Linked DNA regions of Homo sapiens: regions 1, 2, 3, 4 and 6 are each reported to be linked to region 5. The links are microRNA targets in miRTarBase. Many come from high-throughput screens and were not tested one by one. Region 5 holds a microRNA gene; each other region holds the end of a gene's coding sequence.

Region 1 (4,936 bases), not on the chromosome of region 5:
GACCGAGTGAGACCATGTCTCAAACAAAACAAAACAAAACAAAAACCATACAGTTGACTTGGACAGTAAGTTTGATTTATATGAGGTGCCAAGGTGGAGTCATTGGGTGGGCAATTGACAAGATGAGTGTAGACCTCAGAGGACAGATATTGGCTGGAAGTAGAAATTTAGGTGTTGCCAGCATAGAGATGAACTTTTTTTTTTTACTATTATTATGAAAAATTTCAAATATAAAGAAGAGAGAATGATATAATGAATAGCCAGTTTTGCCCATCTAGATTTAGAAATTTTTTTTTTTTCTATGTTGGTTTCATGTTCATTTTTTTAATAGTATTTGTAAATTGCAAGTATCCTGACATTTCCTGCCTAAATACTTCATGTGTATCAGCAGATTATTGAAACCATGAGAGAGGATGGTCTCCTTGGAAGAGAGAAAAGAGAGTGAAACAGAATGTAATCCTTCAGCCTCTTAAATATTTGTGCTGGTCCCTGCAATGGGGAATATATTGCTGATGGGAATCCATCTCTCTTGCTACTTTCATGGAAATAATAATGCCTGTCATTTACTGAGCACTTATTACCTGCTGGCATGGTCTCATTTAATCTTTCCACCAATGACTGAGGTTAGAATATTAAACCCATTTGACAGATGAGGAAACTGAGGCTCACTTGGGGTCTGGGACTTAATGAGTGCTTTTCACTTAAGTGCCAACTGAAGGAGTGAGGCTGGGAGAGTAGAAATAGCTTGCTCAAGGTGACACAGGTCAAAGTTATCAAACCTGTCATCCTCACTCCAAAGCCAGTGATCATCTTGAGGGCCCTCAGCATTTCAGAGCTGAGTTCCTGCTCCCTCTTGACCTCAGACTTGTCAGGGGAACATTTGTCCTGCCAAACTCATTTCTTTTCCATTTTTGATGTGTGTGTATGTGTGTGTGTGTGTGTGTGTGTGTGTGTGTGTGTGTATGCTTGTGTATGCACAGTTGGGCTTTGAGGTCACAGATAGATCACAGATTGTATTTTGGGATTGCCCCCCAACCCAAGTACGTACCAGAGTTCTAAAGAGCAGGGCTCCTCTGAGTGGGTGCTCCCACACCGCCACCTCTGGTCTCTCATGGCCTTCTGTGCTGCCTCCCACCAGGTGCACCCCAGACATGGATGTCATCCTCAACATTCCTGTGGAAGAGCCACTACCCTTCTAGATGGCAGTGCCATGGGCCGCCCTCCCCTCCTGCTCTCTTCCCAGCACCTGGAGCCTTGGATCATTTACTTCCAGGACCGGATCTCCATTCAGACCCTGATCTACAGTCTCCCTGCTCCCTCTGCCCTTCCTCCCTCTTTCTTTCCCTCCCTCCCTCCCTCCCTTCTTCCCCCCTTCCCTTCCCTCCTCCTTCCTTCCTCCTCTCCCTCCCTCCCTCCTTTCTTTCTTCCTGTGGTTTTTTCCTCTCTTCTTCCCTTCTTTCTGGTTGGTGCTGCTGGGCCAGGTGGGAATTTCTGATTAAATCTGCTATTCCTTTTTTACCAATAAAGCTGGATTTACATTTGCTTTTTTGCCAGTGTCTCGGGGTCCCCAGCTAGGTCTTGCAGAAGATGTGGTGGGAACGGACTTCGTCTTATGATAAGGGGCGGGCAACTGTGCTAACTGCATCTGGGGCTCAAAACTTCTCCAGAAGAAGTGCTGGAGCAACCCCCTGCCTGAGTCTCCATGGCTCAGTGGCTCTGGGCCACTCCCTCCTGGTGCAGTGGGAGCCCAGCTTCTCTCCAATCTGTGCCCAGACCTATTGAGGGCATTGTCGGGGCTGACAGGCTTATTGATTTTAATACCCCTGGAACTTGCTAGGCCTTCAGTGCTTGGAACAACTCAGAAGGGCTACTCTGGCTCCAGAACTTCCTGAAGGCTCAGCTGCAACTACCCTTGGGCCTGCACTGCAGCTGAACTTCTCCCTGTGCCCAATCCTGCATATTTCTGTCTTCCTCAGTTGTTGATTCCAAGAGCACTCATTACTCAACATTCTGCACCCTACACTCCATCTCAGAGTTGGCCTTTCTGGGCCAACTACTAGATTGCTACAACCCCCAAGAGGCTCTGGTCACTCACAGATCCACTTTGTGTTAAGATACTTGGTTACAGGTAACAAAACAACCAAATCACATTGGCCTAAACTATGAAGGGCTCAGGTCAATAAATAGCTTAGGTGAGGCTTTGTCCAGAAATCAAGTGATGGCACCAAGGACTTGGTTTCTATTTATCTACTTTGTTTTCTGAGGTGTTGCCCTTTTCTTCAGGTCAGCACTGCTTGTGGCCCCAATATGCCAGCATCTCCCAGGGTTGTACAGGTCCTTGTACATGTCCTGTTGGAAAGAGAGAGACTGGCTGTGTCCCAGAATTTTCAGCCAGTGTATTAAGATTCACTGTAATTGGGCTGGGCACAGTGGTTCACGCCTGTAATCCTAGCACTTTGGGAGGCCGAGGTGGGTGGATCACTTGAGGTCAGGAGTTCGAGACCATCCTGGCCAACATGGCAACACCCTGTGTCTACTAAAAATACAAAAATGAGCTGGGCGTGGCAGCAGGCACCTGTAATCCCAGCTACTCAGGAGGCTGAAGCAGGATAATTGCTTGAACCTGGGAGGCAGAGGTTGCAGTGAGCTGAGATTGTGCCACTGCTCTCCAGTCTGGGTGATGGGGGATGAGACTCCGTCTTTAAAAAAAAAAAAAAAAGATTCATTCTAATTGAACCAGCTTATATTACACGCCCACCTTGAGCCGGTGTTGGAGGTGGAGCGTGCCTGCTGGTTTAGTTCAGGTCACGGGCTCTACCTTGGAGCAGGGAAGGGATGGTTAAGGTGGAACACGTGACCTAGGCTGAGCCAACAGGTACTCCCCAGAGCCATGTGGATCTCCAAGCAGAAATGGACCCTGTTGAACACAATAGCAAACACTTCAATGGAACCTACGTTATGCTTTACATACATCAACTCACTACACCCTCACAACAACCACCCTGTGAAGTAGGTATTGTTTATTGTTATTTTCATTTTACAGATGAAGAAACCAAAGGATGAAAAGGCAAAGTGATTTTTCAAGTCACCAGGTTACTAAGTGGCAGAGGCAGTTTGCTCTTAACCACTGTACAATCAGGAGCTCAGCTGAGCAGGAGAGAGCTGAACTGCTAAGTGCTGGAGTAGCTGATTAATGATGGCCCGGCATGGTGGCTCAGGCCTGTAATCCTCACACTTTGGGAGGCTGAGGCCAGTGGGTTGCTTGATCTCAGGAATTTGAGACCAGACTGGACAACATGGTGAAACCCCATCTCTATAAAAAATATAAAAATTAGCTGGGCATGATGGTGTGCACCTGTAGTCCTAGCTACTAGGGAGACTGAGGTGGGAGGATTGCTTGAGCCCAGGAGGCGGAGGTTGCAGTGAGCCGAGATCGCACCACTGCACTCCAGCCTGGGTGACAGAGCGAAACCCTGTCTCAAAACAAAAAAAGTCAAAGCAAGTAATAGCCAAGCCCCAAATCTCTTATTATTACAGTACAAGAAAGAGGCTAAACCAGAGAACCTGGTTTGTTTTATTTTGTAGAACACAGATCCACCTGTTCTAATTTCCTCATAGAATGATGCCAACTGGGGTCGGGTGGATGAGCACAGGTGTGGGGTTGGTCTCACTGCAGAAAAGCTTCCAACAAAAAGGCTCCTGAAGTTGTACGGACCTGGGGGCCAGGGATGGGGTGGGGAAGGGAGAGTGGGAAAACTTCTGAGTCAGCATGGAGGAAAGTGTCTTCAAGGATTCTCCACTCCCCAAGATAAGGAGGTCCTGGCCGAAGGCCTACCCCACTGCAATGAAGACGTGTCTGAATGAAGACTTGGGTTGGGAGCGGAGATGTGTGTGAGAGGTCGACTGTCCAGGAGGCCTGAGTCTGTGTCTGCAACTGTCTTTAAAGACTGCAACGCATCAGCTGTGCACGACTCAGCTGTGAGGCCTGCCAGGTAAAACCTGTCATTGCCTGTGTTTGGGCTGAAAAATCACACATAGGTTTTTAGCCAGGAGCTGGACTGTTTGTGAAGGGATGCATGAGTTCAGAGGAGGAAAACCAAGAAAGGAAGCCTGGACATAGGTTCCCTCGCATTGCACGTAGCCCTCATGCCTCCGAATGCGCCAGAGAGTGACCCCGCACATGTACAGCATCTGTACATGGGTGTCTTCCCAGGTACTCAGAGCCGCGTGCGCAGCTCTCACAGGCAGATACACCTGCATGCACATGCACATGGATGCATACTGGGACTGTTTCTTTTCTTTTTTTCTTTTTTGAGACGGAGTCTTGCTCTGTCGCCCAGGTTGGAGTGCAGTGGCACAATCTCTGCTCACTGCAACTTCTGCCCCCGGGTTCAAGCGATTCTCCTGCCTCAGCCTCCTGAGTAGCTGGGATTACTGAGGCCCGCCACCATGCCCAGCTAATTTTTGTATTTTAGTAGAAACGGGGTTTCACCATGTTGACCAGGCTGGTCTCCAACTCCTGACCTCAGGTGATCCATCCGCCTTGGCCTCCCAAAGTGCTGGGATTACAGGCGTGAGCCACTGCTCCCGGCCCATCTATCATTCTTTATTGGAGTACCGGAGGGCAGCAGGAGTGAGAAAGAAGAGGTTTATGGGAACCCGAGGTTGAAGGGGAAATCAGCACTGGATATCACCTTTAATGGGAAGGACAGGCAACTGGGACGTCTCCAGAGCACTTAATAAGCTGTAGAGGTACTATTTAGATGACCAGACATTATTATTATTTTTAATGTAGTTTTTATTTTTATAGATTTACGGGGTACAAATACATATATTGCATAGTGGTGGAGTGGGCTTCTAGTGCCCCATTACCCGGATAGTGAATGTTGCACCCAATAGGTAATTTTTCAACCCTCACCCCTCTCCGCCTCCCATC
Region 2 (4,936 bases), not on the chromosome of region 5:
TTGCTCTTTGACCCTTGAAAAGTCCAGTAGGGACACGTTTATAGCAATAATACCTCCGAATGAGCCCTTGTCAAATATTCATTTAGTGGTTAATGTGAGCCATTTTCCCCTGGGATGGTCTGTAATACCAGCTTCCCAGCATTGGCAAGAAACCTTGCTAATCTACTACAGCTCAGCAAAATATTTTAACGCTCTTTATTTAAAGTATGTGGTGGGGGGGGGGTGGGTGGTTTGGGGAGAGAAAAAAATTTCAGAAAGAACAGACTGTACTCTCATCCTTTTGCACATTTCTATTCTGTGTATATAGTTAACAAAACATTTAAATTCACCCTATTTGACTGGAAATTGAGTGGTTTCATTGAGCAGAATAATATCCCGAGGAAAAGAACTAAACAACAACTATCTTCAGCACCATGAGATAACCATCTCTGGGCAAGTTTATGGGTTTACTCTCCTTGAAAATCACATTATTATTAAAATATTATATGTTCGATATTAATCTAGCCATGAAATTACATATCTCAGGTAACCATTTAATTTAATCAAATGAATGATCGTACAAGATATATATCATTTCCCTCAGATGTAGTTATCAAAAGCATTTATATTTGCAAACAAAATATTTTGACTTTCATTTTTCAACTATTTGGCTCGGCGATATGAAGGGGTAGAAGGGGGAACGGGAGTTCTCTTGTTTTATGCAGATAGTGACAATTATTCAAAGCTAGTTCTACTTCCCAAAATATTGTGCTCCCTTTCCTTTTGCTAAATATTTGAACCTGACCATTTTGCCAGAAAGTTGCTGACCCTGTGGGCTTTTTTTTAAAAAATGAGAGGTGAGTGCAGTGCAATTACTGTAAACCTCTATACATATTTCTAATATATTTCTATTTTCAAAATATATATAATCTATATATTTGACTGCCTCAAATTCCGGGAATATCCTCCCCACTCCCCCAGGATGATCATTTGGATCTTTATTCAAAGTTTCTTTTATTCGTATGTGTGAGCAAGAACTGGCGAATGTGCTCATTACCACGTGAATAATCCGTATATGCATTACAATGGCTGGCCAGGCTAGGGGAAATTCTTTTAGAGTCTCTGCATTAATTAGGGGGGAAAATGCCTTGCTTAGAATTGGGAACTGGAATAATAATTGTCCCTTCCCAGTACAATGTTATCCTAAAAATGAGGATTAAAAAAGTAATAAATAAAAACCAGTACATATCTAAAACAAAGCAATCTAGAAAAAAATAGAAAGTACAGAAAATATGAGATATCCTCAGTTCAGCCCAGAACTAACATTAGCAACACCATGAGAAAGAAATACTTTCTTGGAAATGAGAAGATGCAAACCAACGGGATGAGCTAACTTAGTGGCTGCAGCGGGTACTTTACTCAAGGGTGGAAGACGCTGCCGGATTCCAACTTCTCCAAAGTTGTAGCAAGTTGACACAAGCTCTTGAAATTGTGGGAAGCAAACCCGTGCTCTTAAAAGTGCCCGATTGTTGGTTCCTGGTCCCCGTGGGTGGGGGAAGACGAGCGAATCAAGTAGTAAATAAAGTAGAAAAGTCCCTGACTAGGTAACAGATTATCCGGCTGCCCCAAAGCAAGGGTGGGTGGTGATGCAGAAGCATCGCTAATTCAAAGACCATGGCGATGTCTCAACTTTTCCACTCCCACTGAGGACAACTATAGCCTTTCTTTACCTTTCCTAGGGCAAAAAAAAAAAAAAAAAAAAAAAAAAAAAAAAAAAAAAAAAAAAAAAAAACCACCACACAACAAATCCAATCTTGTTTCCCCACCCCTTTCCCCTCCCCCACTTCTCTACTACAGTAGTAAAACATTGTTAACAGATCAAAAGCATAATCATCTCCAAATGTGATTAGACCGGACAAAGTAAAATATCTACCTCAGAGTTGATTGTTTTCTTCTTTAATATGGCTGTTGCCTGGCTTCTCTTTTGCTTGTTATCAGCTGCAGAGATTATCCGATTTGGGGCTACAGGCTTGGACCCGCGCTGCCAATTTAAGAAATGGAATTCAGGGAGAGAGGGAGAGAGAGGGGAAAAAAGAAAATAAATAATAAAAAAAACTATGTTTATGATAAGCCGGGGAGTTTTGCAAGATGTTCTTTTCTTTCCCTCTCCCCGAACAGGAAAATGTAGAGGAGAAAGTTTATGAAGTCAAGGAACAAAGAAAGCAAACCACTTGTTTCCTCTCAGACAATAGCAGGGCCAGAGTAATCCAAACACCCACCCAGCAGATGAACACTTTGCATGTCTAGTTTGCAATTATTCTGATACAAGAAGCATCATTTTTCTCTATAGCCAGGTTTCAAAGGGCCATTGTGCTGTGAAGAAAATGAAAACAAAACCAGCCAACCTGGTTCTGATTTGGCTCAATATCCCATCTGCTAAACTACATGAAAAATTTCAGAATTGAATCCTTTCTGGCAACAAGTGGCATAAATCAGTTTTAAGTATAGGTCCCCATCATGCTTATTCATGCTGCTTAGAAAAGGAGGGGGCGGATTTACAATATATGTCTCTAGTTTCTATTTTAGAAATGACAGAAATTTCAATTTTTCCAGTACTTATTAATCATCCAGCCGTTTCTTTTTTGCAGTTAACATTAGCACATGATGCTGGACTAGTAATACCAAGGTTTTTGGTATTTTGCTTTCTTGGCTGAGCACAGTATTATAATTCCCCGAAAAGTTATGTATAATCACAGTGTTATCCAAATAAATGAAAGACTCAAGAATAATTTCAGTGTCCATATTTCAAAAATTTATTTATCTCAAACTGTGCATAATGGAGTAAAAACTTAAGTTGAAAATGTACCTGTTATAAGGATGATATTAGTTCAAATATATACATGGATTCTCGGCAGACTGATTCAAATAATACAGAGCCGAATCTTTTAAAATACAACTACGGAAAATAAAGGGGGGAAAACCTTAAAATATCACAATAAATTTACAGAAATATTACAAACCATAAGAAAATATTTCAAACACAGTAATTTCATGGTTTTTTTTATCTGAACAAAATGGAAAGTTGGGATCGAACAAAAGCTATTATAAATTACCAACGGTGTCAACCTGCATGGCCATTTTTGCTTTTAACAGTAAGTTATAAAATTTAGTACAGTCTAAAACTTTTGCCCTTTTTAAACAAGACCACAGAGATGGTTCGCCAGTACTTATTCTAATTTTTTCCTTTTGTACAATTTTTAAACAATTAAAATGTCCAAATTTGAATAATTTTCTTCTTTTCACGTTTGCAACTGTCCTAAATTTCAGCTGCAGAATCAAAATTCAGCAAGAAGCCTCTCCTTGAAAAATATTGGCAAATTCTCAGCTTATAAACAATGGACATTTTGATTGCCATGTTTATCTCGATAAATACTGTACAAAAGTTGCTTGCAAATATTAAAACATTTTTTTCGTCGCTTGGAGACTAGCTCTAAATATTATTGGTAAAGACTTTTGCAAACTTCCTGCAAAGCTCCTACCGTACCACTAGAACTTTTAAAAAGTTTTTCGTAGCTTTCTTTCCTCCAGATCTATACAAGGTCCATTCCCCCGCCCTCCCCACCCTCCCCAGGTTTTCTCTGTACAAAAATAGTCCCCCAAAAAGAAGTCCAGGATCTCTCTCATAAAAGTTTTCTTGTCGGCATCGCGGTTTTTGCGTGAGTGTGGATGGGATTGGTGTTCTCTTTTGCAGCTGTCATTTGCTGTGGGTGATGGGATTTTTTTTTTTCCTTTTTCTTTTTGAGCGTACCGGGTTTTCTCCATGCTGTTTCTTACTCTCCTCTTTTGCACCCCTCCCATTTCCCTCGTTTTTCTTTGAAAATTTCTCCCCCCTCCAGTTCGCTGTCCGGCCCTCACATGTGTGAGAGGGGCAGTGTGCCGTTAATGGCCGTGCCGGGCACCGGGCCGCTCTGGTAGTGCTGGGACATGTGAAGTCTGCTGGGGGCGGCGGGTTCCGGCACCTCGGCGCCGGGGAGATACATGCTGATCATGTCCCGGAGGTCCCCGGCCTGGCAGGGCGCCCTGGAGTGGGAGGAAGAGGTAACCACAGGGGGGCTGGAGCTGGCCTCGGACTTGACCACCGAACCCATGGAGCCAAGAGCCATGCCAGGGGTGCCCTGCTGCGAGTAGGACATGCTGTAGGTGGGCGAGCCGTTCATGTAGGTCTGCGAGCTGGTCATGGAGTTGTACTGCAGGGCGCTCACGTCGTAGCGGTGCATGGGCTGCATCTGCGCTGCGCCGTGCGCATTGAGGCCCGGGTGCTGCGGGTAGCCCAGCTGGTCCTGCATCATGCTGTAGCTGCCGTTGCTCCAGCCGTTCATGTGCGCGTAACTGTCCATGCGCTGGTTCACGCCCGCGCCCAGGCCGGCGCCCACCCCGACCCCGCTCGCCATGCTATTGCCGCCGGGGGCCAGCAGCCCGCCGGGCAGCGTGTACTTATCCTTCTTCATGAGCGTCTTGGTTTTCCGCCGGGGCCGGTATTTATAATCCGGGTGCTCCTTCATGTGCAGCGCTCGCAGCCGCTTAGCCTCGTCGATGAACGGCCGCTTCTCCGTCTCCGACAAAAGTTTCCACTCGGCGCCCAGGCGCTTGCTGATCTCCGAGTTGTGCATCTTGGGGTTCTCCTGGGCCATCTTGCGCCGCTGCCCGCGGGACCACACCATGAAGGCATTCATGGGCCGCTTGACGCGGTCCGGGCTGTTTTTCTGGTTGCCGCCGGCCGCCGCCGCGGTGGAGTTGCCGCCGCCGCCCCCCGAAGTTTGCTGCGGGCCCGGCGGCTTCAGCTCCGTCTCCATCATGTTGTACATGCGGGCGCTGTGCGCGGGCCCGGCCCGCCGGCGGCCGCCGACCCTCGGCCCGGCCGGGACTTTGGGGGGCCCGCGGGCGGGGGGAGAGGAGG
Region 3 (4,936 bases), not on the chromosome of region 5:
CACCTGGCAGTTCTCATTCTAAAGAAGATGGTGTAGCCTGGGAGGGTCATGAATCCCACTTTTGCAACCAACCTTCCCTCAGAAGAGAGAGTCTGGGACACCCTGTTCTAACCCTTCGGTGGACTTCCGCATGGCATGTAGACCATTCCAGATGACTTGGTCTATGCTCTCTGTCCTTGAGATGGCTCTTTTACTGTTTTGTATGCACACTACATCTCCCCAGTTAGTCTGTAAGCTTTACTTGGGCAGGAAAGACGACCGTTTTGTGTCTTTCTGTGTCTGCCTCAGTACAGAGCTCCTGGGAGACCTTCGACAATTTAGTACATGTAGCTTGAAAGAACCCGAGGCTTTGGGTTTCAAAGGCAGCTGTCAGATTTCTGGTCCGACTTTAGGAATATATATATTTTTTTGTCTGTGGGTGGGCAGTCTCGTGGAACTGAGGATTAATTTTTCATGAGGGTTGTGAGTTTGCGAGAAATTCTTCAAGAAATGGCTTTGGGGCTGGGCATGGTGACTCACGTGTGTAATCCCAGCACTCTGGGGAGGCCAAGGTGGGAGGATCACTTGAGGCCAGGAGTTCCAGACCAGCCTGGGCAACATAATGAGACCCTGCCTCTATTTAAAAATAATAAGAAAAGAGGAAAGAAAAGGCTTTTGGATAGCTTTCGTAGGAATTTCTTAAGAGTATAATCTTTTCCCCACTCATCTTGTTAGAGCAATTAAGAGGCTTTGGGGCTGGGCATGGTGGCTCAATGGTAGGGGGTGGGTGGCAAGATGACTTTATTTTTATTTTTATTTTTATTTTTTTTAAATGAAGTCTCGTTTTGTCTCCTAGGCTGGAGTGCAGTGGTGCGATCTCGGCTCACTGCAACTTCTGCCTCCAGGGTTCAAGCAATTCTCCTGCCTCAGCCTCCCAAGTAGCTGGGACTACAGGCATGTACCACCGCACCCAGCCAATTTTTGTATTTTGAGTAAACAAGGGGTTTCACTATGTTGGCCAGGCTGGTCTTGAACTCCTGACCTCAGGTGATCTGCCCGCTTTGGCCTCCCAGAGTGCTGGGATTACAGGCGTGATCCACCACGCCTGGCTGGCAAGATGACTTTGAAGTGTTATTCTTGACCTGTTCACACCGTTGAGTTCACGCAGGGTGTTTTTCATATTACTTTATTTCCTGTACTGTGAAGTGTGTTGAAATGTGGAAGTTATTTCACAAAGTTAACAGGGTCTTCAAGACAGAAGAGATATACGTGCAGAGTACACACATACACCTACGTACACACCTGTATATGTCGATGACGACAGCATGGAGGGAATGAACTTGTGCATGGAGAAGGGGGCTTTTTTTAAACTTGAAAGAAACCAGCCCATTCTGTGTGTGTTTGGAGGAGGGGAGCCTGTAAAGCCTATTTACCTTGAATCCCCTCTGGCTTACAGCTGCAGAGAGCAAAGGAGAGCAGACATATTCTAGATTGGGCAGTGGGATGATGGTGATTGCGTTGCTGCTCAACGAGTCTGGGTTTGCAGGATCAAGGTAATGACCTCTCCCCTGAGGGCCTCATCAAAGGGGCTGAGGCTGCAAGCTGTGAATAAGATGCAGAAGGGGCTCTTATCCAGGCCGAAGCACCAGGTTGCTTTCGGCCATAATAACGTGTGGACTTTAAGCAGGAGCCTTGAAGAAACCAGCTGCAGCTAGAAAGAATGCGGCGATTGTAGTGGAGCACGGGGGAAGGAGGCTATGATGAAATGGGCCCTATTTTCCATAATTAGCAAAAAAGAAAGGTGAGAAGGAGCATAATGGGAATTTCTTGAAGTTAGGGACCCAGCTTAATCCAATTTCTTAAAAACCTCTGGAACTTTTTTCATCCTAACTTGGGGGTGGGCACTGTGTCTTACTCATTTCTAGAACATCCATCCTCTATGCCTCCCACCAATATACACACGCAGGGGGCTGAGAAGGGGCAGCATCCCTTGGAGGAAGTTAGGGGGAAAGGTGAAGTCGAGGCAGCCCTGTCTGGACCGGGTTCCACTTGGAGACCTGCCAAGCTGCTCACCTGGGCCAGGCAATGGAGGGTGGGGAAGCCTCTGGGGGAGGGACAGTCCATACAGAAAATAAATTACTGCAAGGGAAGGGGCAAATATTTAGGACTTGTCCTGCATTCGAGTATGATTTAAAGTGTGGAGCTGCAGACTCGGAACATGAGCGCCGGAGGGACCTCAGAGGAGCATCTTTTTTTTTTCTTTTTTGAGACGGAGTCTCACTCTGTCGCCCAAGCTGGAGTGCAGTGGCACAATCTCGCCTCACTGCAACCTCCGCCTCCCCGGCTCAAGCGATTCTCCCGCCTCAGCCTCCCAGTAGCTGGGATTATAGGCGCGCGCCACTATGCCTGGCTAATTTTTTTGTATTTTAGTAGAGACGGGGGTTTCACCATGTTGCCCAGGGTGGTTTCGAACTCCTGAGCTCAGGCAATAATCTGCCCGCCTCGGCCTCCCAAAGTGCTGGGATTACAGGCGTGAGCCACCGCGCCCGGCCGGGAGCATCTTATCCACCTCCTCGGTTTACAGATGAGGGAGCTGAGAAGGCACCTGGGAAGGGCCTACAACAAACGGGAGCCGACTATGTCCTCACCTGGGCTCACTCACGATGGGAATGAGCCCAGCCTGGGGACGTTTGTGCCCGCTAGACCCTAGAGGAGAGCGACACCATGCACACGGCCCATGGCTCTTCCGTGTTGGGACCCCACGGGCCTCCTCCACCGAGGAAAATCACCCCAGGAAGAGGGCCAGGCGCAAGACTGGGACCAGCTGTTACTCCCACCAGCCACTAGGTGGCACCGATGCGTCTGTCTCCGAGGAGGAGGCGCATTTTCAAACGTGGAGGGGCTTCTGGGAGACGTCCAGGTGCTCCGCCCCTTCCTCCCTGTTTCTCAGGAGCCGCCTCCCGAGGGTGGAAATGGCTGGGCCGCGCACACTGATGGAGAACAGATGGCGGGGGCGGGGCTGCCTCTTCCTTCCCCCGCCCCCACAAAAACACTGTGAACCCTCCTCCCTAAACCCGAGGTTGGGCAAGGGGGCCGCAGGACCCATCGACGTCACGCGGGCCCATCCCGGGCTTGAACCCTTCCCCTCTCCCATGGCTGCTTCCTAGTTCCTTGGGCCATTCTTCTCCTTGGCTGTTCCTCCTGAGGCCCAGCCAGGAGGGCGTGTGCTATGTTCACCCTGGAACAGAAGGGGGCGCCCTGCGCATCCCTGTGTCCTGCTGGCCAGATGCAGGCCCCTGCGGGAGCCCTGACCCTGCACCCTACCTCCGTCATTCCCTCGCTCCTCCTTCCCGATACCCGGGCCAGCAGGGCCAGGGCGATGTCTGGTGCCGGGGAACCAAGCGGCGGAGCAGCAGCTTTGCCAGAAGGGATCCTTGGCCCAGGAGAACTGGGTTTCTCGGCCTCTTTGAGCCAGAGCTGCCGAAGATGGAGGAGTCCCCAGGGGGACTTTCTGAACCTTACCTCCGGGCTGTTTGCTCGGCCAGGACCAAGATCAGATAGTCCACGGCCCAGATGTACCCAGGAGTGGCGGGTGGGGGAGGAGAGAGAAGGGGACACCAAGTCTTTAGACACATCTGTGTTTCTGGAGCAAAGGGAAACCACAGAAGGCCAGGAGTTTGGGTGTGCACTGGGTGTCTTTCAACTGGGTGGAACCAAACTGAGTCCTTGAAGTCTCGCTCCTGAGGCTGCAGAAGAATAGATGGCTTTTCCCTGCCTCGAGGGTGGGATAAGGGAGGCAAAGCTGGGAGAAAGAAAGGGAGAGAGAGAAAACGAATGGCCGGCACAGGTGCCTGGGCCCCAGCCTTCAAGTGCGGTCAGAGCAGATCCGGTGGCGGAGTAGGGCCTAGATGACCACGGACTGCAGGAGGCGGAAGCACATCATGAGGTCCAGCGGGATGGGCGGCTTCAAGTAGTTTCCATCCAGCCGCAGGTAGCGCAGGTGTGGCACGTTCTCCAGGTCCGAGGAGAAGTCATGGAACGCCACTAGGTCGTTGGGGCAAATCTGGGTTCCGTTGATTTCTACGGAAAAAGAAGACGAGAAATCAGAAGGGAGTGGAGGCTGGCGGCCAAGATGAGGAAGGGGAAGGGGGAAGACACCCGAGAGCAAGGACTGTAGACTTCTCTCTGAAACTGGCTAGCTTTGGGAATGTGTGATCATAGATGAGCTGCCTTGACCTCCAGGCTCAGTTTACTCATTTGTAAAATGAATTAAGTTGGAATTGATCAACAACTGTTATTGCAAGTTAACTCTAGAGAATTGGAAGTAAATTTTGAACTGGGCCTTCAAGAATAGGTAGAATTACAACAGGTGGAGACCTGGGGGATGGTGTTCTGATAGAGGAATCTGTTTGAATGAAGTTGTGGAGGCCAAAATTCTGCTTGTGGGCGAATCTGGGAATAGTAATAGTGCCCAATGTGATGTACTAAGGAGAGTAAGCTGGGAAGGTAGTTAGGCTTTCACTAAGAGGCTTTTGATCTCTGGTCTGAGGAATGGCAGTGAACAGGACTGTCTTTGTGAGAGCGATGTTATTAACAGGATACTTGAACCATGGTATCCTGGAGCGTTAAATCTGGAAGGGTCCTTAGAGATCCCTATGTTCAGGTTTATGCTGTACAAAGATAATCCGGCTACACTGTGGAGAAGCAATGGAGTAAGGTGAGATCTGAAGCCAGTAGGTGGATGTGAAAATTACTCTGCAGGTTTTCCTTTGAATTGGATGTGAGACATGAGGATGGGCAAAAGATGGTAACTGAAATAAGGATGACAGGAAGAGGAAAGAGGATCTGGGGAGAGCTCCGGAACCCCCGGGACATGATGAGCCTACTGATTCTGAAGGGTCCATGGCCTGAGATTCCATTTCCTCCATCACATCTTGTTGGATGCCTGTGGCACCAG
Region 4 (4,936 bases), not on the chromosome of region 5:
CTGGGGTAAGGAAGGCCGCGTGGACCTCTCCTGGGGTAAGGAAGGCCGCGTGGACCTCTCCTGAGTGAGGGAGGCCGCGTGGACCTCTCCTGAGTGAGGGAGGCCGCGTGGACCTCTCCTGAGTGAGGGAGGCCGCGTGGACCTCTCCTGAGTGAGGGAGGCCGCGTGGACCTCTCCTGAGTGGGGAGGCCGCGTGGACCTCTCCTGAGTGAGGGAAGCCGTGTGGACCTCTCCTGGGGTAAGGAAGGCCGTGTAGACCTCTCCTGAGTGAGGGAGGCTGCGTAGATCTCTCCTGAGTGGGGAGGCGGTGTGGACCTCTCCTGGGGTAAGGAAGGCCGTGTAGACCTCTCCTGAGTGAGGGAGGCCGTGTAGACCTCTCCTGGGGTGAGGAGACCATGTAGATTGCTCCTGAGTGGGGAGGCTGCATAGACCTCTCCTGGGTGGAGGCCCAGCTCTTCTCGGAAACCTGGTACAGAGTGAGGGGCTGGATGCAGCTGAGAAAATGCAGTGTCGGTCACACCTGGATCAGGGAGGGGGACCTGGGGGCTGCCTGCTCTCCTGTGTGGAGGGTGGGAGGGCCTGGCATTGGGTTGGGGTGGGGAGAGGGCTGGAGACCGCGACACACGCCCCTGGGGAGGTGCCCCCACCGCCAGGCCTCCTGCCCAGCACGCTCCGGGCCCTGCGCCCTGCCCTGCACTCACACCTTCTCTCCCGCTCCCCGCAGGCCACGGACTCTGACTACGAGGACGCGCTGCCCAAGCACTCCTTCGTGAACCACTACATGAGCGACCCCACCTACTACAACTCATGGAAGCGCAGGGCCCAGGGCCGCGCACCTGCGCCGCACAGGTACGAGGCGGTGGCGGGCTCCGAGGCGGGCGCGCAGCTGCACCCGGTCATCACCACGCAGAGCGCGGGCGGCGTCTACACCCCCGCTGGCCCCGGCGCGCGAACTCCGCTCACCGGCTTCTCCTCCTTCGTGTGAGCAAAGCGCCGCGCCTCCCTCAGGGCGGAACGGAGGCAACTTTCCGGAGTCTATTTTTGTTAAGACAATCAACTCCAATAACTGAGCTGAAGTTTTTGTTTAAAAAGAAAAAAATCTGATAAGTGATGATTTTACCTACTTGTGGACACTAGATTTCAATTAGGAAGGTTTTTTTAAACGGCTTTTTGTAACTTCGCTGCAGGAAGCAGGTTTGTTTCTTTTTCTTTTCTTTTTAAGAGAAGGTGTATTTCACTGGTGCAATGGCTTGGCACCTCCGGGGCCTGGGAGGACCTCAGACCTCCCCAGCCCTGGGTTTCTCCGTCTTCAAGACCAACTAGGAAGGGTCAAGCGGGGAGAGGGAGTGGAGGGTCAGGTGAGATCTCAGAGCTGCCCCGGCCGGCCCCCGTCTCTTTCTACCTCCTCTTCCAGAGAACCAGCGGCTCACACCCTTCTCAACGCAGGACATCCTCGGCGGCTCCTGGGGTTTGAAGAGCAAACGTTTTTCCCTGGGCTCAGTGCGTTTTGTCCCAACTTCATCTGTTTCTGAAATGTTCTCACTTGGCAGTGTCTAGTCAAGGAGTCGGCTTTCAGGTTCCTGACGGCCAGGCAGGGATGCTAAGGTGTGGCTCAGCCGTCACTGTCTGTGTCACTGCAGTGGTGCGGTCCTCAGGCTTTTCTGCCTGTCTTTCCCCCTTCCTTCTCACCTGACAGCGAGGGAGAGGGAAGCCTCTTAGGGCTGGAAGCCACCACGCTGGCCCTCTCCTTCCCCGAACACAGCACACGGTCAACTCCGCGGGACACGAGGACACGGGACGGCGTCTCCAGAATTGCTTGTTACGTAGGAAGCGTGCATTGTTAACCAGAGTATTTTTAAAATCTTTTTATCTTTTTTTAAACTATGTCACATGAAATGAATGCGTCTTTGCTGTCTCCAGGTGCCTTTTTATTAATTGTTCAGCTTTGTACATGGGAAAGATGAAAAGCAACAGTGTCTGCAAATAAAGCAAAACAGCTCTGAGAACACACGCTCCCGACTCGCCTCGTGCACACCAGGCCGTCCCCTCCCTCTGTCCTGGCTTCTGCTGGCTGCTCGCAGCAGCCACCGCTTCTCCACCACTGGCGCTGCTGCTGCCCCCTCTCCCAGTCCGAGGCCAGCTTTTAGCCTTAACAGGTTTTTTGGAAATGTTTCTTTTTTTTATTTAAAATTGTCATTGTTTGGTTTAAATTTTTCAGCTAGATGAAAAGAGTATGAACTACTTTGGAAAACTTAACAGCTCAGAGATGGCCATGCCTCCAGCCCCTCACGTCATCTTTGCAACAGACGACTGGGCTGCCATGGTCCACCCCTCAGCCCGGGTCCCGGGTCTGGATGGAACGGGAGCACTGCTGGTGCCCACTGGCGTGTGTGCCCCGGGTCCCTGTAAGTGCCCCCTCACCAGCAGCAGCGTGACACACACAAGACTCAAGACCACCCTGTCAGTGCCCCCCAGTGCACGGCAAACGGGCAGGTGCCGTTCCCCCAGTGACCTGAGGGTAGGGGACAACTGAGCAGTATCTGACCAGTGCCACCCAGGAGCCAGTCTCCTGGCCACATGCAGAAAGTGTGGCCCCTGCTTACCTAGATGTTTTGTGCACCTCCATGGGCAGAGGGTGTGGATATTGCCTGGATTCTGTGCTGTCAGCGTTGCTGAGTATGGCCCCAGGAGACCAAGGAGAGTTTTGTATAGGCTGGAAAACCCCTTTTCAGTCTTTCCAAAATTAGAGGGTATGGCAAGTTTCCTTTTTTCTCTCCTCCCTTCCTTCCCCTCCTTCCTTTCCTTTACCCCTCCTTTCCTTCCTTCCTCCCTTCCTCTCTTCTTTCCTCCCTCCCTCCCTCCTTCCCTCCCTTCCTTCCTCTCTTTCCTCCTTCCTTCCCTCCCTTCTTTCCCTCCCTCCCTTCCTCTCTCCCCTATTCCTTCTTCCTTTTCTCCTCCTTTTTCTGAGTGGAGGGGGAAATATTCTAAACCAAAAATCCTAGATGCTCTGCCCAAAGCCACTTCTGCATGAGAATCGCAACCCACAGTTCCCCGGATGAGACTCACCACAGTGGACAGTGCCACCTCCTTCCCCTCGGCCCCGGAGAGGGCGAAGTGGGCGGGAAGCCAGGATGTGAGCACTGGAATTTCTTGGAAGAGAAGCGATAAATGGAGACCATGGCCAGCGCTGCTTTCTGTGCACTCTGATGACTGCTCTCTGCAGCCATGAGGATGTGGCTTTACATGCCAGGGAGAGTGTTGAGACGTCTTAGGTTGAGGATGAGCAGATTCGAGATATGTTTGTTGCTCTCGGGTTTTCGATACAACATCATGACACTTCTGTTTCAAGCTCATGTTTTCCGTCTCCCCTCCACTCTTAGTAAACCTTGATCTGTACGGAGCGGCCTGTCCGAGGCTACGCCGGCCTCCTGGCTGCTGCTGGACTGTGCTTAGGACAGCGCCCATGCCTCGGAGGGACTCTGTCCCATGAGAACCACCTGTGCAAAGGAACAGAGCTGGATGTTTCCAGGTAGATTTTGGCCTCCCAGAGCAATGCGGCATTTGAGAAGCAACAGTTCCTAACTCCTTATCTTCAGGGAAGGAAAAGAAAATCACAGCCTAGGAAGATGGAGGTTGGATTTTAATCTCGGTTTTAAAAAGAGGACAAACAAAATGTCTCTAAGCCAGGCTAGATGGAATGTGCTCCCGCTCTCTCCTGCCGTGCTGAAAGTCATGCCTTGCGGATGCCTCATGACAGCAGTGGCTGAGTCTCCCCACCCACCCCCAACGTGGCTCATTTCAGATTGCTTCGGCCCCACCCTGCAAGGATGTGGTCACGGAGTGGCCAGGAGGCTCCGTCTGAGCCACAGGGATGGGTGTGCAGAGCTCCCTCCTCCTGGGGTGCCAGGGCAGAGATTCCAGGCAGGTGAGCCCAGAGAGAGCTGCCAGGCCACACCCCCTCGGCCTCCTGCACGGCCACCTTCTGGGTGAATCGGTCCAGCCCAAGCCCCTCTCCCCAGCCTCGCCTTCAGCCTCTCTCCCAGCCTGCTTTTATAAGGCGCACTTCACTCAATGCTGTAGCCAAAAAACGAGGGGCCCCAGGGAGAGGGGACCCAGATGGCCACACACGGAACGCGCCTCCACAGCCCCGGGAGGTGGCTCACTCTGTACAGGTCTTCGGAGGCCGTGTTTGTATCTAACTGTGACTGGGCTGAAGCATGATGTTTGCCTAATGGTTCGTAGCATGGTTTTTATTTCTTACGCATTCTTGGCACACAGTGTAGCTATCCTCCTGACGAGCAACCCGTCTGCGTACCTAAGTGTGGCTCCCCGTGGGTCAGCGTCCTGGTAGCATGGATCCAGTCTGAAAGGTGAGGACAACGTGGAAACTCATGAGCTGAGCCTGCCCGCTGGGACACGTCTCCTTCCCGCGTCACCTTCTGGTTTAGGGAGCCGTCAGGTCCCTAAACGTTCCCTACAACTTTTTCTGAAATTGTGCAGAAAAACAGATCTCATTAAAAGAAAAAAAGAAACAACTTGTAGGAAGACAGAGAGGTGCTATGGGTACAATTTTTAATAAAAACATTATTTTGTTCCTTAAACGCTTGTGATTTTCTTCAAGCATTGATGCAATTATTCGGGAGACCTTAGGAACCTTCTGGATTTGAAAAGCTGTAAATATGAACCACTGGGACTTCACCCCAGTGCCGTGCTGGACCCCCGGCACCCCCAACACCCTTACCTTTATCCTGTTGACATGCAGGTGTGTACAGGCAGCATCCCCCAAAATTGGAGTTGAGGTCAGGGGTAAAGCCACTCCACACCCTGGCCGGGTGACCTGGGGCAGGCAGCATGGAGCCTCAGCCAGTGAGACCCCCCTGCATGGACCAGCAGCCATTCCCAGGGCCAGCCCAACTCCACCCACCACCTGGCTGGA
Region 5 (4,936 bases):
TGGCACATATAGGAGATCATTTTTATCACCTAGTCACAAAACTACAATTTTTGGGAATAAAACTGTGTAAACTGCCGTGGCAATGTAAGTCCAAAAGCATTGTTTTCTAATTATATAAGTAAGAAAAAATTTCTAATCCCGTTTTTCAAGATCCAATAAAACTTAATTAGTCCTGTGAAAGAGAACACAAAATGCTCCCCAAATGAAGGTGAGAGATAGAAAAGACAGACAAAAAGAGAAACAGAGAGAGAGACAGACTTCTGAAAACCCAAAGATATGGTACAAACATGGAAAAGCTAAATGTACAAAGATATTACAGCAATACGTACAATAAACTATCAGTCTGACCAACCTAACAGTACCTCACTCAATGAGAAAACATTGTTAGAAATGGGAAACATTTACACTGTTAACTGAAATAAGGCACAAATTTGAAAAGAAATTATTATTATAACTTTGTAAAAAAAATTGTGTATGAAAAAGGACTAAAAGGCACATATACCAACATGGTAACCACAGTTATGTTAAGATCATGGGACTGCATGTAATTCTTTTACATTCAATAATAATAATAAATAAAAGTTATAAATAAGTTGTCTAAATTATCTATAATGTGATCTTTTCAATGTAAAGTTTTCTAAAGAAAATAAAATTATATCTTACATTTAATTTACAACAATGTCTTTTTCTACTTCAATTTCTACTAAGATATTTGAGCACTAAATTCATTATATGAACTAAGTTTTTTACCATATCACAAAAAAAATAAGAATAAACATTACCTTATTCTGTGCTCATAAAAATAATTAGTGGGCAATCTACTAATTAAGAAATTCAATGTAAATGAGTCATCAAATTAATTGGTTCCATAAATCCAAAGTATCAGCATAGGGCTTTAATAACCATCCTCAGCATCATCAGTATACTTATCAGAAGTGCAATTAGTAAAGCCTGACATGACCCTACACCCAAAAAGGCTATAAAAATAAAGTTGTTTTTTTTTTTACAGTATAAGAATATAAAAATAAACCTTTGGCCATCAACATAGAAAACAAAGGCTGCTGTTGCCCTCAATCTATACTTGAAAACAGAATAGTAAATAGCCTGAGTCTATGCTATCACTTAGATGATTGTCCCTCCTGTTGAAATTTGATCTCAATGTTGGGGGTGGGGCCTAATGGGAGATGTTGTTGGGCATGGTGGGGAGGGGTCAGAACCCTCAAGAATAAATTAATGCTCTTCCTCAGGCATGCTTGAGGTCTCACTCTATTTGTTCCCCCAAGAGCTGGTTGTTAAAAAGAGCCAGGGCCCCTCCTCCCACCCTTTTCTCCTCTCTCATTTTGTGCACAAGCTGGCACCTCTTTGCCTTCTGCTATCAGTGGAAGTAGCCTAAGGCCCTCACTACAAGCCGATCCTGGTGCCATACTTCTTGTACAGCCTGCAGAACTGTGCGGTAAATCAAACTCTTTATAAATTACCTAGCCTCAGGTATTCCTACATAGCAACACAAAACAAGACAAGGCAGTCAATTCATCAATAATAAGAATCAGTCCTATGATCAACTTCCCTCTGGAGAAGTTTTTTAATCTTTCTTGCAAATTAGAATATATTATCCCCAAAATGTGCAGACCTGATGTCAGAAAGAGATAAAATTCTTAATGAACAATACTGCCAAATGAGATAAAGGATACTGTAATAAGTCTTTTGACTAGTTACAAAAGCATCAAAAATGGTCAAAAAATAACCTTAAGTACAGTTGTAAAGAGCTTGTAATTCATCACTCCCAACCTCACGACAAGAAAAAAAGCTGGGGGTAAAAAAAAAAAAACTGATAATCCAACTCTTCTTAGAGCCATCAGAGAATTGAGGTCAGAGGGCAAACTGCTGCTCTAAAACCTGGAGAGACAAGACAGGCAGATAGAGAATCACAGTGTGCAGGAAGCAGAAGTCCAGGAATACAAGCTCTCAACTGAAGCCAGCATCAGTAGGAACACTTGAAACAGTAATTGTGGACTAGCTTGAGAGTTAAAAACTGTAAGGGGACCAGTCTTACAGGGGTCCCCATACTTTCCTGAGTTTTACCTCCAGGAGCCCTACCAGGTTCTCATGGTAAAGATCTGAAAAAAAACCCCTCCTGCTTGCAGCAGGGGAAGAAGAAAAACCATTTTGAAATACGCCAGGAACTTTATTTCTCTTAAAAGGTATTCCAGAAAAGGAAACTATTTTACCAGAACCTAACCAACTGGCTTTTAGATTGCCTAACCTACTACGGTTTTACAGTGCCTAACCAACCGGAGGGAAGGGAAATACCCAACTCCAGCCCCATCTATCCTTTGACCGAGAAAAAGAGACAGTTACTCAACTCAGGCTCACAGTTGGTAGAGGGCAGAGGGATGAGGGGGAAAGTTCTATAGTCCTGAGATCTAATTACAGGACTATAGAACTTTCCCCCTCATCCCTCTACCCTTACCACCACATCAGTACAGCTCTTGTACAACACAGGATTACAACTTAAAAACCTGCAAGCCTCAGACCCCATTTAAGGATTCTTTACAAAAACCCAAAGACAACAGGGCAGATAAAAGCAAGGACAGTAGAAGAAATTTTAGCCTCTAATAGTGATGGCGGTGGCTTTCTGGTACATGGACGGCACAGGGAGAGGCGGACAGACCCCCTCCCTCAACAGCCCGCCGCCCTCTGTGCAGCACAGTCAAGCAGAGAGCAGACCGATGCAGAGCTGAGGCTGAGCTTCAGGGGCCTGAGGCAGGAAGTGGGAGCGGTGCCCACTTCAGGGACCAGCCAGTGACACAGCCACTGCGCCCACCCCACTGAGGGTGCCAGGTTCCTGGGCCTCAGGAGGAGGCTCTGTGCAGGGCTGCCCGGGGCTACATCCCCAGGGTCCACCCCACATCAGGCGACTGCTGAGCCTGCCACTCCCAACAGCCAGGCCGGACAGTTATCTGCTCTGCCTGGGCCACTGAAGCGCCAGGGCAACTGGGGTAGCTCCCGGCGATGTCACCCCTGCCCCGGATCCCAGCCCAGGTCCAGCAAGGATCTGGAGCCCCTGTCTCAGGCTGAAAGGGGGCGGAGCCAGGGCTGCATGCTCCACAGTGCCAGTGGGAGCCAGGAGCAGGCAGCAGCCCAAGCCACCCAAGCCTGGGTGGTAGACCCAGGCCTCCATGTGCTCTTGGGGACTGGAAACAGGCAGGAGCCCTGTCCCCCAACCCCATACAGCTGCAGCTACCCAAGTCAGGGTTGTGGACCCAGGCCTCCGTGTGCTCTTGGGGGCTCAGGAAGGCCCCCCTTGCCTTTGCAGGCTCGGAAATGCCTGTTCCCGCTGCCACTTCCCGCACCGGCTCCAATGTGGCAGGTTCTCAGAGTGGGGTTGGAGCCAAGCCTGGATATCATCACAGCCCAACAGGATATGCGCATGCTCAGGCCCTGCCGCCTAGGCCCCCTCTGAGGAAGCTGAGGTGGAGAGCTGCTCCATGCTGGCAGGCAGGTGCCCCTTGGCACAAGCAGCCTGGGAGCCATGGAAAGTGGCAGGAAGCAGACAGGCTCCTGGGTGGAAGGGGGCACGTCCCCAGATAGACCCCACCTTCAGGCCAGGGAGGGCCTGAACGTTGGGGACCGGGCTGCCAGTCCCGCAGACTGCAGTGGGGGCTTGTGGTGCCTTTTCCAGCCCACCCATGGCCACCGATGTACCAATTGACACACTTCCTCCCCACTGAGGTCCATAAAAGCCCCGAGATCAGCCAGAGCAGGGCAGAGGCCAGAGAGACAGCCAGATGACTAGCTGCAGAGAGGAGCTATCGTCTCTGCTGAGAGCTGGGAAGTCAATGGGGACCTGCCTGCAGAGAGGAGCCACTCACTCCAGGGCCTCCTCTCTGCTGAGAGCTGAACACTGGATGAGACAACCTGCCTATAGAGAGGGGCTGCCCTCTGCAGCTCTCCTCTGAGCTGTTCTAACACTCAGTAAAGCTTCTCTTTGTCTTGCTCACCCTCCACTTGTCTGCATACATAATTCTTCCTGGACACAGGACAAGAACTCGGGCAAAGGCGCCACTGGCCACAGAGGTTTCTAGACAGAAAAGCAACACCTTAAAGATCCCGTAACATTTGCCTCCGATACCACAGCCAGAACAAACACTAAACACAGCCTGACTTCTAAACAGATAAACATAAAACCTCACACTAAAGGCCTATTTACCTCAGTTCCTTTTACCTGATACATTCTGTCTGGCTATGAAAAAAAATTATGAGGCACTATAAAGGCAAAAAATACAATCTGAAGAAACAAAGCAAGCCTCGGAAACAGACTCGGATGTGGCAGAAATTTTTACCAGGAATTATCAAATTATCACCAGGAATTTTTTTTTATATATATGTTTTGAGACAGGGTCTCACTGTTACCCAGTCTGGAGTACAGTGGTGATTCACAGCGCACTGTAGCCTTGAACTCCTAGGCACAAACAATCTTCCTGCCACAGCTTCCCAAGCAGGTAGGACTACAGGTGCATGCCACCACCATGCCCAGCTAAGTCCTTTTTTCTAAGACCGGCCTGGGCAACATTGGAGACCCTGTTTCTACGATTTTTTTTTTAATCGCCAGGCATGGTGGCACACACCTGTAGTCCTGGCTACTTGAGAAGCTGAGGAGGGAGAATCACTTGAGCCTAGGAGTTCAAGACTGCAGCGAGTTATGATCACGCCACTACTGCACTCCAGCCAGGGTGACAGAGTGAGATCCTGTGGAAAGAAAGGAAGAGTAAAGAGAAGGAAAAAACAGTGAAGAGGGGAGGCGAGGAAGGGGAGTGTACAAATCAATAACACTGTAACAGGAAAGAATGTCTTTAGTAAGAAACACCAAACCTGGAAGTTCAGAGAACACCAAGCAAGATAAATACCAAAATATTTACATAGGCAAATGATAGTG
Region 6 (4,936 bases), not on the chromosome of region 5:
TCACCAGGGAGGACCAGGCAGGGATTCAGAGGGCGGGGTTCTACATTTGGTTCCAAATTTGAGGCATTTAACTTCTCAAAGCTCTGTTTCTCCATCTCTGAAGCTGATAGGGAGGTGTTACCTGTCTTGCTTGCTTCACAGGGTTGGTAAGATTAAAAGAAGTCCCTGTATTGAGGCACTTAGCGAAGTCTAAATTGTAAAAAAGATGGCGCTGGTATCTAGCTCCACAAAAGGGTGAGCCCTTATCCTCAGTTAAGCACTGAGTTTGGCGCTGTTACTATTTGCTTGCCATGTTTTTTTCTGGTCTCCTCCGAGGAAACTAGGATATTGCTGCCTTGCTTAAAATCTGGCTAAGCCCTACTCCACGTGACATGCAAGGCCCTTTGTGACCTGGTCCCTTAGGTCAAGCCTCCCCTCCCACTCCTGCCCCACCACCCAGCAGCCAGCCCACTGGGTGCAGGCCAGGCCCCTCCCACATGGAATCCTCCACCGGGAAGGCCTCTCCCCGTTGCCACATCCACTGTGTTCCTCCTTTTCCTCCTCCCTGCCCAGTCAAGAGAGTTGGTCGTTTATTCCTCTTTTTTCAGCATTTCCCACAGGGCACTGTAATAATTCCTTTGATGCCTAGCCCCCCACTAGACTAACTGGAGAGGGGCCCGCCGCTTCCTGCCTGGTGTCTAGCTCACAGAGGGGACGCAGGGAGTGCAGGTTGCGTGAGTGCCTCACCTGCTTCCTTCCCTCGCTCATCTCCTCTCTTTGCTGTGCCCCAGGCCATGAGGTTTCCTCCCAAATCGTACAACAAGGACTTGGAGTCTGCAGAGGTAAGCTCTCTGCTTTCTGGGTGAGACCGAAAGGTCAAACTTCCACACAGAAGGGGAGTCGGGCGAGTGTCTGGAAGGGCTGAGCTGCTCTGAAGCTTTGGCCTCACTTGCCTCTCTCCCCAGGAACGGCGTGAGCGAGAACAGCAGGACTTGGAGTTTGCCAAGGAGATGGCAGAAGATGATGATGACAGCTTCCCTTGAGCTGGGGGGCTGGGGAGGGGTAGGGGGAATGGGGACAGGCTCTTTCCCCCTTGGGGGTCCCCTGCCCAGGGCACTGTCCCCATTTTCCCACACACAGCTCATATGCTGCATTCGTGCAGGGGGTGGGGGTGCTGGGAGCCAGCCACCCTGACCTCCCCCAGGGCTCCTCCCCAGCCGGTGACTTACTGTACAGCAGGCAGGAGGGTGGGCAGGCAACCTCCCCGGGCAGGGTCCTGGCCAGCAGTGTGGGAGCAGGAGGGGAAGGATAGTTCTGTGTACTCCTTTAGGGAGTGGGGGACTAGAACTGGGATGTCTTGGCTTGTATGTTTTTTGAAGCTTCGATTATGATTTTTAAACAATAAAAAGTTCTCCACAGTGCTTTGTGCATCAGTTACTATACTTCACTGCAGTATTGGCAGGCTCAGATTTTGGGTTTTTTGGCCTTAGAGTACTAGCCCCAGGTGTGTAATCTGAGGGCGATGGGTCTGCAGATGGGGAGGTGCCCAGGGGAGGATGAAGGGACCCTGACCTGGGGTCGGGGGCCTAGGTTTACTCTCTTTTCGTACTTGTGTGGCTTTGGTAAGGTCTTGTTAGGAAAGGTGTACCATGTGTCCATCACCAGCTGCAGACCTTCATCTCCCAATACACCTCATGGTGCTTCACGGTTATTGCAGTTTTTACAAATTGAAGGTTTGGCCAGGCATGGTGGCTCATGCCTGTAATCCCAACACTTTGGGAGGCTAAGGTGGGCGGATCACTAAAGGTCAGGAGTTTGAGACCAGCCTGGCCAACATGGCAAAACCCCGTCTCTACTAAAAATAAAAAAATCAGCTGGGCATGGAGGCAGGCGCCTGTAATCCCAGCTACTTGGGAGGCTGAAGCAGGAGAATTGCTTGAACCCGGGAGGTGGAGCATGCAGTGAGCCAAGATCTCGCCACTGCACTCCAGCCTGGGCAACAGAGTGAGACTGTGTCTCAAAAGAAAAAGAAAAGGACAAATTGAAGGTTTCTGGCAACACTGCATCAAGCAAATCTGTCGGTGCCATTTTCCCAACAGCATGTGCTCACTTAGCGTCTCTGGGTCACATTTTGGTAAATCCTCTCGATATCTCAAACTTTTTCATTATATCTGTTATGGTGATGTGTGATCGGTGATCTTTGATGTTACTATTGTCATTGTTGGGGCACCACAAATTGCACCCATATAGGATGGTGAACTTAGCCGGGCACGGTGGCTCGCGCTTGTAATCCCAGCACTTTGGCAGGCCGAGGCAGGTGGATCACCTGAGGTCAGGAGTTCAGGACCAGCTTGGACAACATGGGGAAACCCCGTCTCTACTAAAAATACAAAAAACAGCCGGGTGTGGTGGCAGGCGCCTGTAATCCCAGCTACTTGGGAGACTGAGGCAGGAGAATTGCTTGAACCCAGGAGGCGGAGGTTCCAGTGAGCCAAGATCGTGCCATTGCACTCCAGCCTGGGTGACACAGTGAGACATTGTCAAAAAAAAAAAAAAGATGGTGAACTTAATAAATGTCGAGTGTGTTCTCACTGCTCACACTGCTCACTCCATTCCCTGTCTCTCTCCCTCTTCTTGAGTCTCTCCATGCCCTGAGACACAAAATAATATTGAAATTAGGCCTGTTAGTAACCCTACAATGGCCTCTTAAGTGTTCCAGTGAGAGAAAGAGTCATTGGCCAGGCCTGGTGACTCACGCCTGTTATCCCAGCACTTTGGGAGGCCAAGGCTGGTGGACCCCTTGAGCTCAGGAGTTGGAGATCAGCCTGGGCAACACAATGAAACCTTATCGCTACAAAAAATATAAAAATTAGCTGGGCATGTGGCACGCACCTGTAGTCCCAGCTACTAGGAAGCCTGAGGTGGAAGGAGCCCTTGAGCCTGGGAGGTGAAGGCAGAGGCTGCAGTGACCTGAGATCCTGCCACTGCACTCCCACCTGGGCGACAGTGAGACCCTGTCTCAAAACAAGAAAACAGAAAAAGGGAGAAAGAATCACACATCTCTCACTTTCAATCAAAAGGTCAAAATGATTATGCTTAGTGAGGAAGGCATGTTGAAAGCTGAGAGAGGCCAAAAGTCAGGTCTCCTGCACCAAACAGGTAGCCAAGTTGTGAAGGGGGAGTTCTTTAAGGAAATTAAAAGTGCTGCTCCAGGTTGGGCACGGTGGCTCACAACTGTAATCCCAGCACTTTGGGAGGCTGAGGCGGGCAGATCACAAGGTCAGGAGTTCGAGACCAGCCTGGCCAGCATGGTGAAACCCCGTCTCTACTACAAATACAAAAACTAGCCAGGCATGGCAGTGGGCGCCTGTAATCCCAGCTACTCGGGAGGCTGAGATAGGAGAATCCTTGAAACCGGAAGGCAGAGGTTGCAGTGAGCCGAGATCACACCACTGCACTTCAGCCTGGGTAACAAAAGCGAAACTCTGTCTCAAAAAAAATGTTTTAAAAAGAGTTCGAGACCAGCCTGGCCAACATGGCAAGACCCCATCTCTACTAAAAATACAAAAAATTAGCTGGGCGTGGTGGTGCATGCCTGTACTCCGAACTACTTAGGACGCTGAGGCAGGAGAATCGCTTGAAGTGGGGAGGCGGAGGTTACCATGAGTCAAGATCGCACCACTGCACTCCAACCTGGGTGACAGAGCGAAATTCTGTCTCAAAACAATAAAAAATAAAAATGATAAATTAAATTAAAAGTGCTGCTCTAGTGGACACACAAATGATATGAAAGCAGAATAGCATTATTGCTGATACGGAGAAAGTTTGAGTCTGGAAAGAAGATCAAATCAGCCACAACATTCCTTTAAGCCAAAGCCTAGTCCGGAGAAAGGCCCTCACTCTCTTCAATCCTTTGAAGGCAGAGAGAGGTGAGAAAGTTGCAGAAGAAAAGTCAGAAGCTAACAGAGGTTGTTTTGTGAGGTTGAAAGAAAGAAGCCGTCTCTGTAACATAAAAGTGCAAAGTGAAGCAGCAAGTGCTGATGGAGAAGCTGCAGTAAGTTATCCATCAGATCTAGCTGATCTCACTGACGAAGGTGGCTACACTCAAAAACAGACTTTCAATGTAGACAAACAGCCTTCTATTGGAAGAAGATGCCACCTGGGACTTTCATAGCTACAGAAGAGAAGTCAATCCCTGGCTTCAAAGCTTCGAAGGACAGGCTGACTCTCGTTAGGGCTAATGCAGCTGGCGACTTTAAGTTGAAGCCAATGCTCATTTACCATTCCGAAAATCCCAGGGCTCTTAAGAATGATGCTAAATCTATTCTGCCTGTGCTCTGTGGATGGAACAACAAAGCCTGGATGACAGCCCATCTGTTCCCAGCATGGTTTACCGAACATTTTAAGCCACTGTTGAGACCAACTCCTTCGTCGGCTCTGTCGGCCAGGCTGGAGTGCCGTGGCATGATCTCAGCTCACTGCAACCTCTGCTTCTAGGTTCAAGCGATTCTCCTGCCTCAGCCTCCTGAGTAGCTGGGATTACAGGCATGAGCCACCGCACTCAGCCAAAAAAAATATTTTTTAAAGTTATTACTGCTGATTGACGATGCACCTGATTACCCAAGGGCTCTGATGGAGGGATACCAGGGAAATAATATTGTTTTCATTCCTGCTAACACATCCATTCTGCAGCCCATGGATGAAGAAGTAATTTCAACTTTCAAGTCTTTTTTAAGAAATACATTTTGTAAGGCTAGAGCTGCCATAGTGATTCCGCTGATGGATCTGGGTAAACTGAAAACTTAGAAAGCATTCATCATTCTAGATGCCATTAAGAATATTCATGATTAGGGCCGGACGTGGTGGCTCATGCCTATAATCCCAGCACTTTGGGAGGCTGAGGCAGGTGGATAAACTGAGGTCAGGAGTTTGAGACCAAGCTGGCCAACATGGTGAA

The links. Region 5 holds the annotated microRNA hsa-miR-625-5p (AGGGGGAAAGUUCUAUAGUCC, at 2,433-2,453, opposite strand). A microRNA usually pairs through its seed, bases 2 to 8, with sites in the 3' UTR of a target mRNA and lowers its output. Matches are read on the target gene's strand: a 7mer-m8 pairs with bases 2 to 8, a 7mer-A1 pairs with bases 2 to 7 and ends in A, and an 8mer does both.
Region 1: the mRNA of C20orf96 is a reported target of hsa-miR-625-5p. Seed matches in the 3' UTR shown: 7mer-m8 at 1,365-1,371.
Region 2: miRTarBase lists SOX2 as a target of hsa-miR-625-5p. Seed matches in the 3' UTR shown: 7mer-m8 at 2,951-2,957.
Region 3: the mRNA of PRELP is a reported target of hsa-miR-625-5p. Seed matches in the 3' UTR shown: 7mer-A1 at 3,573-3,579, 7mer-A1 at 2,085-2,091, 7mer-m8 at 1,983-1,989 and 7mer-m8 at 1,723-1,729.
Region 4: miRTarBase lists SDK1 as a target of hsa-miR-625-5p. Seed matches in the 3' UTR shown: 7mer-m8 at 1,672-1,678 and 8mer at 2,500-2,507.
Region 6: miRTarBase lists PSMD3 as a target of hsa-miR-625-5p. Seed matches in the 3' UTR shown: 7mer-m8 at 1,066-1,072 and 7mer-A1 at 1,176-1,182.

The regions. Positions count from the first base shown.
Region 1 is chr20:267,470-272,405 of GRCh38, reverse strand. It overlaps C20orf96 (chromosome 20 open reading frame 96), which reads left to right. Exons shown (of 11, transcript NM_153269.3): 11 at 1,139-1,543. The coding sequence ends at 1,199. Among named protein-coding and RNA genes, the nearest start is that of DEFB132, 12 kb to the right of the region's middle.
Region 2 is chr3:181,712,269-181,717,204 of GRCh38, reverse strand. It overlaps SOX2 (SRY-box transcription factor 2), which reads right to left. Exons shown (of 1, transcript NM_003106.4): 1 at 2,769-4,936. The coding sequence starts at 4,844. The coding sequence ends at 3,891. The region is part of intron 6 of SOX2-OT (SOX2 overlapping transcript); the gene reads right to left. Among named protein-coding and RNA genes, the nearest start is that of SOX2, 2.8 kb to the right of the region's middle. RefSeq lists cis regulatory regions at 1,052-1,055, 1,061-1,066 and enhancers at 957-1,148, 796-1,776, 3,439-4,290, 4,291-4,936.
Region 3 is chr1:203,485,829-203,490,764 of GRCh38, reverse strand. It overlaps PRELP (proline and arginine rich end leucine rich repeat protein), which reads right to left. Exons shown (of 3, transcript NM_002725.4): 3 at 1-4,059. The coding sequence ends at 3,884. Among named protein-coding and RNA genes, the nearest start is that of OPTC, 5.9 kb to the left of the region's middle.
Region 4 is chr7:4,264,400-4,269,335 of GRCh38, forward strand. SDK1 (sidekick cell adhesion molecule 1) reads left to right here. Exons shown (of 45, transcript NM_152744.4): 45 at 725-4,601. The coding sequence ends at 985. Among named protein-coding and RNA genes, the nearest start is that of FOXK1, 420 kb to the right of the region's middle. RefSeq lists an enhancer at 1-480.
Region 5 is chr14:65,468,633-65,473,568 of GRCh38, reverse strand. MIR625 (microRNA 625) reads right to left here and starts at 2,467; the gene lies at 2,383-2,467. The region is part of intron 2 of FUT8 (fucosyltransferase 8); the gene reads right to left.
Region 6 is chr17:39,996,560-40,001,495 of GRCh38, forward strand. PSMD3 (proteasome 26S subunit, non-ATPase 3) reads left to right here. Exons shown (of 12, transcript NM_002809.4): 11 at 771-821; 12 at 945-1,400. The coding sequence ends at 1,022. Among named protein-coding and RNA genes, the nearest start is that of PSMD3-AS1, 16 kb to the right of the region's middle.